3 linked regions of the Homo sapiens genome follow. The protein of the gene in region 3 interacts with the protein of the main gene of each other region in a pairwise test. Each region holds a gene or a part of one and is shown on either strand. Other genes may lie near its edges.

Evidence for each region.
Region 1: the proteins of RBM5 (region 3) and KIF19 interact in a two-hybrid assay, tested with the Homo sapiens proteins (one large-scale study listed by BioGRID).
Region 2: the proteins of RBM5 (region 3) and DCX interact in a two-hybrid assay, tested with the Homo sapiens proteins (one large-scale study listed by BioGRID).

Annotation. Positions count from the first base shown.
Region 1 is NC_000017.11:74,324,874-74,329,092, forward strand, and holds the start of KIF19 (kinesin-like protein KIF19), read left to right. Parts: upstream 1-1,352; 5' UTR 1,353-1,476; coding exon 1,477-1,515; intron 1,516-3,551; coding exon 3,552-3,632; intron 3,633-4,219. UniProt on the Homo sapiens protein: Plus end-directed microtubule-dependent motor protein that regulates the length of motile cilia by mediating depolymerization of microtubules at ciliary tips.
Region 2 is NC_000023.11:111,325,054-111,328,701, forward strand, and holds part of DCX (neuronal migration protein doublecortin), read right to left. Parts: intron 1-3,648. UniProt on the Homo sapiens protein: Microtubule-associated protein required for initial steps of neuronal dispersion and cortex lamination during cerebral cortex development. May act by competing with the putative neuronal protein kinase DCLK1 in binding to a target protein.
Region 3 is NC_000003.12:50,095,326-50,098,973, reverse strand, and holds part of RBM5 (RNA-binding protein 5), read right to left. Parts: intron 1-3,648. UniProt on the Homo sapiens protein: Component of the spliceosome A complex. Binds to ssRNA containing the consensus sequence 5'-AGGUAA-3'. Regulates alternative splicing of a number of mRNAs.

The sequences.
Region 1 (4,219 bases), on a different chromosome or scaffold from region 3:
GTGACAGAGTGAAACTCTGTCATAAAAAAACAGAAACAAAAACAAAAAACCCGACCCGATTCTTGTCACAGTATGCCCATTTGCAAACTGTCCAGCCTACAGCCTAGGCCAAGGAACAGGACAAAACCTGGGATCCCGGGCAGGAGAGTTTGGTTTCCACCAAGTTTTACTTGGTTTATCTATTTATTAAACCCAAGGCTGACGGCTGCTTCTTGCTGCTGTTTATTAATAACGATTCCCAACACAGGCTCCTCAGGGGCAGCCGGGGAAGCCAGTCCCAGGGCACAGGCTGGCATCACACTCTGCCTCTGAGGGACCCCAGGCAGTCTGAGGCAGCCCTGGGGACATGAGTGCTTCCTTTCCCAGCCCCTTCCCTGGAAAGTGAAACCCATCGTGGCTTCCTCTCCCAGTCTTGGGGCTGCCGGGCTCAGCTTCGGTGGGGGCAGAGGACACAGAGGATGGACATCAGAATTGGGAGAGGCTCCAACATCCCCCAGGAAACTGAGGCCCCAGGGAGGCAGGAAAAACCAGCTCCAGGTGGCTGGCCGAGTTGGAGGCGGAACTGGGACCAGAATCCAAGTTTTCCCAGGGCCTCCTGAGGACAGGAACCTTTCCCCTGTGTTCCCTGGGAGTGCAACCGTTGTTATTGTCGCCAAGAATGGAGGCGGTAGCGTCAGACCTAGACTTTCTTGCACAGTATTGTGGCTCTTCCAGCAGCAGGCGGGGAGCCAGCAGGGCACACGGACCCAGCCATCGTGACCTAGATTCTGGGTTCAGGGGTAGAGACTTGTTTGCTAGTGGGTCGCACTGAGTCAGGCTCTTCTGTAGCACACCCCAGGTAACAGAGGTGCTGGGCGGCCTGAGCAAAGGGACAACTTTTTGCCACCCATGCCAGTGGGCAGTGGGTGCAGACACTCACAGCACAGGCACCTGCTGCGATGCACGCGGCGCCCACGGAAACCCGAGGCTGCCAGCCGCCGCCCTGGAGACCCCAGAGACAGCGGCAGATGCGTGTGCTTCAAGGGGCAGCGTGGCTGCTGGGGCGCTCCCTAAAGGGCAGTGGCACGGGGTCGCGCCGCGAGCAGAGGGGCGCGGGTGGGCGCGCAGGAGTTAGCGAACTGACACGGAGGCGCCAGGCGGACGCACGGACGCACCGAGGGCCGCAGGGCCGCACAGCCGGGCACACATCGTCGCGCAGCGGTTCAGGCTCGGGGGCCTCCTCGGCGGAGGCGGCCAACTCTCACCCTCAGCGCGGGGAGGGGCGGGCGCCGGGGGCGGGGCGGCGCCGTCCGGGCCCTCCCCCTGCCCCGCCTCGGGTCGGCGTCCTTAGCCGCTGGCGCGTTGTTGGTTTCGGGTTGTCAGGCAGCGCGCGAGGCGGCGGGCAGCTAGCAGCTGGCGGACGCGACCCGGAGGCGGTGGGGGTGCGGCTGAGCCATGCCCGGTGGCGCGGCCTGAGCCCCTCCACCTGCTGCAATCATGAAGGACAGCGGGGACTCCAAGGACCAGCAACTCATGGTGAGACCCTTTTAGACCCTCCTCCCCACCCCGCTCCGTGGTCTACTTCAGTCGGCCTCCAGCGACAGAGTCCTGTCCCCTCGCCGCCACCCCACTGAGAGGACAGGCAACGACCAGGGCCGGGACTCTTCAGAGCAACTTTCCCCAAGTCCTGCAGGATGGGTGTCAAGAAGGGACCATGGCCTTTTTAGACTTTCCTGAGCCTGAAAATTACCCCAACTTCAACCCCACCCCCACCTTTCCACCCTCCCATTGGGAGATCCCGCCCCCAAAGCGTGCGCAGATGAATCTCGGCTCTCTCATCCAGAAACGCCAGGGGCAGGGAGGGCTTGACCTAACTGCCCCCAGAAGGAGGGTGGCGGTTTCCCAGTTAATCAGAGGCTGCTCCAGCCCTGGTGAGGTCAGGAGTTTAAAGGGATGTGGGGGTCACCAGTAGGAAGACAAGGGCCCCTGGTGTCAGGATGGGGCCCGGAGTGCCTGGTTCTTGGGCTGCAACACGGATGCTGCCCAAGTCCGGATTCGAAGTAGTTCAGAGAAGTGCTAGATGCAGCTACCATGGCCCCACAGAGCCCTGGGGCCTGGGACAGATGGGGAGGTGAGAGTGGGGGCTGTGGAGGGGAAGGTGGAATTCCTGATCATCAGTGGTGCCTGGGCCAGAGCAACAAGGGAGATGACTCAGTGACCTCGAGGCCACCACTAGGCTGTGGGTGGGTGGGTGTCTCTCTCAGCAAGCCCCTTCCTCATCCCCTAATTTTTGAGGTCTGGGGAAGGGCCCTCATCACCAGAAGGTGGGCAGTAAGGTAACTGGAGGATAATGTTGCTCCCAGAGTCCCCTACCTCTCAAGGGTGGGCTTGCTTCTCTGAAAGGAGCCTCAGCTCCAGCCCCCAAGCAAGCCCTGGGCTCTAGGACATCCTCTCTGGCTTTTTAGAATGTGTCTCTTTGAAAATCACTGGCCTTGGCATGTATTGTGTGCCCCGGGGAGCAGGGATGAAGGGTCCTCCCCTCCCGCCAGTGGAATTTGGCTGAAGATGCCACTAAAGGTGACCCGTCAGGTAGTGTAGTTCCCTCTGAAAGTGCCTTTTGTTTTGTTTTGTTTTGTTTTTCTTTTTTGAGACGGAGTTTCACTTTCTCACCCAGGCTGGAGTGAAGTGGTGCGATCTCAGCTCACTGCCCCTCAAGTTCAAGCGATTCTCCTGCTTCAGCCTCCCGAGTAGCTGGGATAACAGGCATGCACCACCACGCCCAGCTAATTTTTGTATTTTTAGTAGAGACGGTGTTTCGCCGTGTTGGCCAGGCTGGTCTCGAACTCCTGACCTCAGGATCCGCCCACCTCGGCCTCCTAAAGTGCTGGGATTACAGGCGTGAGCCACCACGCCAGGCCTGAAGGAGTCTTCACTCGGCCAGAGGGCCGTTCATTCTATCCCCACACCCAGCAGCTGTTGCCCTTTGATCAGCACAAGACGTGCTCCCCACTCCACCCTGTTCTTTAGGGAGATCCACGCACAGGATGAGACCCATTTCACACTGGCTGGAGGACAGGCAGATGGGGGTGGGCGCTCTAGGTGACACTCTCCTCGGTGTAGGAATGTGGTCACAGGCTGTTGGGATGATGGGGGACATTCCCTGCTCCATCCCACCTACCAGGCCTCATCCCAGAGCCGTGCCTGCACCTTCCTCTGCAGCACGTCATTCGCGGAAACACAGAGAGGCTGCTCCAGTGCCAGGGCCCCAAGTTCAAGCCCAGGGGAGCTGCGAGTGTTTTATTTGGGCGTGAGGCTGAGGCAGGCTGGAGGAGCAGACAGCTCTCTCCCCTGGGGCTCTCCCGGAGGCCAGGGCTCCTGGGGAGACTCATCAACTCAGACACAGTCCAACACTCTGTGGACCTGCTGCCCTCTGACCTAGGTAGAGTTTTACTTAGGACAAGGGAGGCCTGAGATGGCTGAATGCTAGAGAAGCCAGGGGCTTGCTTGAGGTCTCTCTGAGGCCCAGCATGGTCCTCTCCCTCTAATCCCAGGGGCTTGGTTTTCCCTCCCAGGTGGCGCTTCGGGTCCGGCCCATCAGCGTGGCAGAGCTGGAGGAAGGAGCTACCCTCATCGCCCATAAAGTGGATGAGCAGGTATGCAGGGCTCTGCAGCAGGAGCTGCAGGGCAGAGGTCTGCTCAGATGGCTCAGCTCACCTGGTGAGGGCAGAAAGGGCCCCTGTGGCTTGCAGCACCCTCCTTCCTCTACTCACTGAACTCTTGGCTGTGCTGTTGATGACATCACCAAGGAAGCTGGGGGCTCTTCTTCCAGGAAGCCTTCCTAGATTGATCCAAGGACAACTGGGAGCTTCCCTAGCCTGGGTGGGCCCTGATCCTTTACCTTTCACATGCTCATTGCTTGACTTTCCCACCCTAATATGCCTGCTGCCCACAGAGCACATATATATATGGTTGAGAGCTAAAGCTCGCCTCTAGGGTGTAACGTGTGGCAAAATCCTCGCTCTCTGTTTGCAATCTTGGTCCTCATGTCACCAGGATGAGGAAGGCAGGGCACACGAGGCAATAAGTGTGTATCAAGTACCAGCAGCATGCTGGGTACTGTTCTAGAAACTGGGAAACTGTGGTGAACAGAAAAGGCCCTGTCCTCTCTCCATTACCTTAAGTCTAGTGTGAAGAGATGAGGCATTCATCAAAGAATTGCATCACAAACAAACGAGTTTGC
Region 2 (3,648 bases), on a different chromosome or scaffold from region 3:
CTTCCCTTTGGAGTTGCTGGTAGGGGAGCTAGGGGAGCTGAAGGAATGTCTAAGCTGTCTTGTTTCAGTGCTCTGTAGCACTGAAAGGCACCTAATTACTTGTGGGACTTTGCTCAAAGCAGCACAAAGGAAATGACACAGACACCAACCCACCCCTTGCCTTTCCACCTCCCTAGCCTGGAGATGGGAGAAGGGGAAAAGAAGCCAAGAAGCAAGGACCATCCAACGTAGACCTTTGCATTCACCAGACAGCACATCCCACATACTAACTACTGTGTGTCAGTGGGACACTGCGAATAATGCTTGTTGGGAAGTCAGGAGAGCGATGTTCTGGCTCTTGGGTGCTAAGTAATGTGTGACATGGAAGATCCCAAGATCCTAAACTTTGTATCTTAGTTCCCCAATGAAAAAAAAAGATAATTATCAATTTCCAACTTAATTCATAGTGCAATTATGAGGAACAACTGAGGTAATAGATTTGGAAATATTTTGCAAAGTGCATAGCATCTAATTCACGTAAAAAGATTGTTATCATGAATCTCTCTTAGCTAGAGAAGAAAGGTATTCTTGTGCTGTTTAAAACAGTAGCCAATAGTCACATGGCTGTTGAACATTTGAAGTGCGGCTAGTCAGAACTGAGATACGTTGTAAGTGTAAAATACAACTCAATTTCAAAGAATGTGTAATTTATTACATTAATTATATGTTAAAATGATAATATCTTGAATGTATCATTATATGAAATATGTCAAAATTAATTTTGCCCATTTTTTAACTTTTTAAGATGTGGCTACTAGAAAATGTAAAATCACATACATGATTTACATTTATGGCTCACATTCTATTTCTATTGAGCAGAGCTGGTCTAGACAGTCACTTTCAGGAAGGTCAGAATGACCAAGTCCCTCTATCTTAGGCAACCCAAAGCAGCCTACTAGTTTCAGAAAAGAAGGACCCTGGGATACAGGTCTTTCATGAACCCTGCTGTTTTGTGTCCCTTGACCTCCCCTTCTAAAGGCTGTATATTTTGTTAGAGAAGGCTTTCTTTCTTATGAATTTGGGAACGGAAAAGATCGGACTTTCAGAAATAGGTGCACATGAGTTGGGGGAAGGGGAATGGAGAACATTGGATTGCTACAACAATGACTTACTGTTGAAGAATAGCAAACTAATTATCACATTACAATTCTCTCAGCCTACCAGGGTGGGTAATTAGCTTCCTTCGGGGGCTCCTTAAAAAAAAAGAAAGAAAGAGAAAGATTCCTTCCCAGCAACTAGCTATTTTGTCCTTTTAATTCAATTCAATTCAACTGGGGACAAAGTTACATAAAGGGAAAATTAACACATTAATGGCTGAAATGGAAACAGAGAGAGACATGTCTTTCTTTAGTTCTGAAGCCAGGCTTACCTTCGCTCATCAAAATGGCAAGTCCGGGGTTAATCAAAGTGTGGCACTGCATAAGCTTTTTTCAAATATCCCATAGGAGCCTCCTGGGCTCAGATTTTATCTTTTTTACCACAGTTCCATGGCCTGATTTAAAGACAGACATAGCTAATATGACTTGGATTCTAAGAGTCCATCAGTTCTGCCCGGTGAAAATGAGCTCCTTACAGAAATATTATATAGACAACAAAATCCTTACTTAACTTGAGTTTAGGGCTTAGCAACAGACATTCCATTTGGGGCAAACTCAATATTGGCAGAAGTGAGGATTGAACTTGAAGGAAATAAAGTAGAAGGATTTGATTTATTCATGGGGCAGAACAGGAAAGGGACAACTTAAGGTCTAAAGACTAAGGAATAAAGAATCAAATTATAGCACAAATTACAGACCAAATAGCATCAATTTACTAAACCTCAAGTCAGAATGAACCTAGCTATTAACTGAACCATGAATTTGACCATATAGATATAGATATAGATATCTAGCAAACTTGTTCAAACCAGAATCAAACCTGTATATTTTCCAATGAAGTAGAACATCAAAACATTCCTTAAACTGAACCTGAACCCAGCCAATGTTTCATTTGGTTAGAATTCCTGCTAAAGAGGAGCACTTTTGGTCTTTCTTTTGTCTTCAAAGGAAGACAATCTTCCATTGGTCTATCTTCCATAGACTTGGATTCTAAGAGTCTTTTGTTACTCAGGTTGAAAGAAGTTTTATAAATCTGTTCACAAGTTCCACATCCAAGACTGACTAACACAGGATGGAAACAGGGTGGTACTACCATGTCCTAGAAATGAACAAAGCCTGTTTGCCCCACCTAACCTATTATCATTTGGTTAAGTGTATTTTAACCTCTACATGTCCCTGGCTAACAGCTAAAAAAAATTGACATTTTATGAAACAATTGTTACTTTTTAAATCTCAAATGTCTGTAAGGAGAAATTTATGCCATATGAAAAGTATGCACTGTCTATAGCTTATCATTCTGGTTATCCGCTTTTGTTTCTGTGGGAGCTATTTTACAACTCTGTAAATTGTAAATAACTGATAACAATGGAAAATTATCCTTATCTATAGAGATTCAAATTCTGAATTATCTAACGATGATATCGAATCTCAGAAAAGGCAAAAATCTTGCACAAATCACAAAGCTAGGAAGTGGCGTAGCTGGGACTTCTTAGAGAGTCATCTCCCTCTCCTCTTTCATATCTTACCAATCTCCTCGTCCCAGCTTGGAATGGTCCTGAGTGAGGTGGAAGTGGAGAGGGAAAATGGGTATAGCAAATCCAAACTTTAGCTAAGGTACTGTTTTGCCTGAGATCAGCTTTGCCCTTATGGAATGTTCACTGAATGGATGCCTTGGACTAGGCTTTAAACAAACTCCGATGAAATGGGCTTGGTTATGTTACAGCCCTTCAGGGTTGGAATCATGAGGAGGCTATAGACACATTATCTGAGATGAGCCCAAACATTCTGGCAATTGCCATAAAGATTGTCTAGACTAGGGTTTGACTTCATTTATGTTCATGAACATCAGAATATAAATGAATATTCCAATTCTTTAAACTGAGAACACCATGTTAGATTGGTGGTAGGAAACAGAGGTTATTTGTAATTCTGCTATCTGCCAAGCAAATTCCCCTCATACACCCAAATTGGTTACTCTGTTTATCGTGTGGGTTGGAATAAATCCTCATTTCTTTTTTTCTTTTTTTTTAGTGAAGGAGTTATGAAAAAGCAAGAGCAGATCTTGCCTGCCAAAGCCTGGGTTGGGATCTCTTATATTGTAACTCCCTTCAATTTGACAAATATTCATTGAGTTCTAATATATTCACGTTATATCTCTGATATTTTAGAGTCACTGAGGTGCATATTTTGTAGAAGGGAAATTCTGTAGGTGGCATTCTGGAGATCAATGATTTGACATAGATTTAAACTGTGTAGTTATAGGTAGTTGTGTTCATGTGTGCTGGGTAACCAATTGGATGCAGTCTGCAAAGAGGATCTATTTACTTCAAGCTGATACCACCTGAGAATTTCTAACTGATGGGTTATATGGTGGTTTAAAAACAGATCTACAAATTCTTCAACACTCTTTCCTTTAATAAATAGAGTCTGGTTCCTCTCTCTTTGAATGTAGGTTGGACTTAGTGACTGCTTCCAATGAATATAATAAAGGAGAAGTGACAGTGTTGGCTAT
Region 3 (3,648 bases):
CGCAATTAATTTCTGTTATGATACACATCCTTGCTTGTGGTATGATGTCTCAAGCCTCCATCCTTTAGTCTAATCTCCCTGTCCTTTGTTCTGCAGGATAGTACAGTGGCTCAAGCCTATAATCCTAGCGCTTTGGGAAGATGAGGCAAGATGAGCGCTTGAGCACAGGAGTGTGAGACCAGCCTGGGGAACACAGTAAGACCCCATCTGTATACAAAAATTTTAAAAATTAGGCCTCGCATAGTGGCTCACGCCTGTAATTCCAGCACTTTGGGGGGCCAAGGCAGGTGGATCACGAGGTCAAGAGATGGAGACCATCCTGGCTAACACAGTGAAATCCCGTCTCTACTAAAAATACAAAAAATCAGCCAGACGTGGTGGCACGTGCCTGTAGTCCTAGCTACTTGGGAGGCTGAGGCAAGAGAATCGCTTGACCCCGGGAGGCGGAGGTTGCAGTGAGCCGAGATCGCGCCACTGCACTCCAGCCTGGGCAAGAGTGAGACTCCGTCTCAAAAAAAAATAATAAAATAAAATAAAAATTACCCAAGCATGATGGTATACACCTGTAGTCCTAGTTACCTGGGAGGCTGAGGTGGGAGGACTGTTTAAGCCCAGGAGTTCGAGGTTACAATGGGCTATTGCACCACTGCACTCCAGCCTGGGTGACAAAGTGCAACCCTATCTTTAAAAAAATAAAAAAATAAAAATAAGGACTCAGATGAGATTTAAAAGAGGCAGTGGATGCGTCACTGTGCCCTGAAGTACGCCTAATCAAGAATAGCCTTCCTGCTCTTTGAGGCCTACTCTCAAAATAAGGAAAAAAATCAACAGCCAAAAAATGAAGAGCCTGATGATAAACTTTTTTTTAAATTTTTTTGAGATGGAGTCTCACTCTGTTGCCCAGGCTGGAGAGCAATGGCATGATCTCGGCTCACTGCAACCTCCGCCTCCTGGGTTCAAGCAATTCTGCCTCAGCCTCAAGAGTAGCTGGGACTACAGGCGCATGTCGCCACACCCAGCTAATATTTTATATTTTAGTAGAGAGGGGTTTCACCATGTTGCCCAGGCTGGTCTCCATCTCTTGGGCTCAGGTAATCCACCCACCTTGGCCTCCCAAAGTGCTGGGATTACAGGCGTGAGCCACCGCACCAGGCCAGGTAAACATTTTTAATGGATCATACTTTTCTTACAGTTAAATTATTGGTAAAAATTTTCAAAGTTCATCACATTCTTAGGCTCCTAATAAATCAAACATTAATTGGGGCTAGAATAAAGTATTCTGGCTGGTAGGCTTGTTCCAATGTCAGACCAACTCCTTTTTCCAAAAGGCCACAAAAATATACTAGTCTCTTCATCAATAATATCAGGCATGAATACTACCATGAAAAAAAAAACAGGGTGAAATTTGTGGAAACAAGATTCTCACTGGCCTCTACTTTCCATAACTAGGTGCAACGGCTGCAAGACTACACACAGCCAATCCTCATTATCCTCAGGTATCACACCTGTGAATTCAACCACTCATTAAAATTTCTAACACTCAAATCAATACTTGTAGCAGTTTCTTTTTTTTTTTTTTTGAGACAGTCTTGCTCTGTCGCCCAGGCTGGAGTGCAATGGCACGATCTCGGCTCACTGCAAGCTCCGCCTCTCAGATTCATGCCATTCTCCTGCCTCAGCCTCCTGAGTAACTGGGACTACAGGCGCCCGCCACCACGGCTGGCTAATTTTTTTGTAGTTTTAGTAGAGACAGGGTTTCACCGTGCTAGCCAGGATGGTCTCGATCTCCTGACCTTGTGATCCGCCTGCCTCAGAATCCTAAAGTGCTGGGATTACAGGCGTGAGCCACCGCACCTGGCCAACCCTCAGTAATATTCTTTTAGGCTTAGCTAGACTTTTGAGAACTCTAGCCCCTAGCCACAATAGCACTTTGCCACTCATCCCTCTCCTGCCAAAAGCCTCTGACTCCAGCCAAATCAAGCCGATTGCTAGGCCTTATCTAGATTCAGTACCTTTCTATTCCCTGCTCATGTGATACCCCTCCGCCTGAAGGGCCCATCTACCACACCATTCCCTTAGTTTTCCACGCCTATAATCCTAGCACTTTGGGAGACCCAGGCGGGAGGATTGATTGAAGACAAGAGTTCAAGACCAGTCTAGGCAATAAAGAGAGACCTTGTCTCTACAAAAAAAAAAACAAACGATAAAAAAAAAAATTAGCTCGGAGTGGTGACACATGCCTGTAATCCCAGCTACTTGGGAGGCTGAGGCTGGTGGATTGCCTGAGCCCCAAAAGTTGGAGGCTGCTGTGAGCCACAATCACGCGATTGCACTCCAGCCTATGCGACAGAGTAAGGCCCTGTCTCACAAAAATAAAAATAGAAGATTCCTTACCCTCCACTAGTAACAATTTCCTTTAAATAACCTTCAAGAGCTCTTAGGCAGACCTCTTTCAATAGGACCTTTTCCGACATGACCCTCTTTTTGAGACAGGGTCTTGCTCTGTCGCTCAGGCTGGAGTGCAGTGGCGTGAACACAACTCACTGTACCCTTGACCTCCTAGGCTCAAGTGATCTTCCTGCCTCAGTCTCCCAAGTAACTGGGACCACAGACAAGCGCCATTAAGACTGGCTATTTTTTTTTTTTTTTGGAGAGATGCGTCTTACCATGTTGTCCAGGTTGGACTTGAACTCCTGGGCTCAAGCACTCTTTTCACCTTGGCCTCCCGAAGTGCTGGGATTACAGGCATGAGTTACCATACTCGGCCTCTGACCCCTTTCTATTCTGCATTGTCACCATTATCTGCTGACCTTAGCTACTCATCCATAAGCTTTTTTGAGGCAAGATCCATAGCTCTGTGTCACTGTAGCATCTAACATGTACAGTGTAGCAGATGTGCAGTGGATCACAAATAATGGAATGATTACCCACTATTAACTCTAATATCCTGTCTCACATTTGTCACATTCATTACTTCCAGGGTTTAGAAACCCAAAGCTACGGGAATCCAATGCTTATTTTGAGCTTTATCCAAAATTCAACTAAACATTAGTCAGAATATTACTTTGATTACTCCAAGAAAACAAATACTGGCACACTGCTGTTTTAAAACCTCACATTCATTTTTACCAAGAGCACTGGCTGAGTAACATACTGTGTTCAAGGGTTGGGGACACAGAGGTGACTAGTTCACACAGAGGCCTATTTTCAGAGATCTTGTGGTAGAGATGAGACATGTGTGTTGATGGCTACAGTAAAGGTGCTACACAAAAGTCATGAATACAGTGCCTTAGGAAGAGAATAACGAAGAAGAAGCTCTGCCCGATAGATCAGGCTTTACATACAGGCGTCTCCAAGCAGAAAAAGGCACAACAGTAGAGCAATGGACATGTCCAAAGTCCAGGATGTGGAAAGTAGGGTGTGGCTGGAAGGAAGGGTGAGGACCAGAGATGCTGCTGGAAATCAGGCAGTGCCAAGTACACTAAGACTCTAATTGGCCAGTCTGAATGAGCCGTCCTTTTTAACAAGCTTTTCTGAGGTTTCAAATGGGTAGTTCAATTTTCAACAAATAAAAGGGTGGCCAGATTATAAAGAAAATTAGGTATTTACCAATCATCCTCATCTAATAAGTAACTAATTCAATAAAAA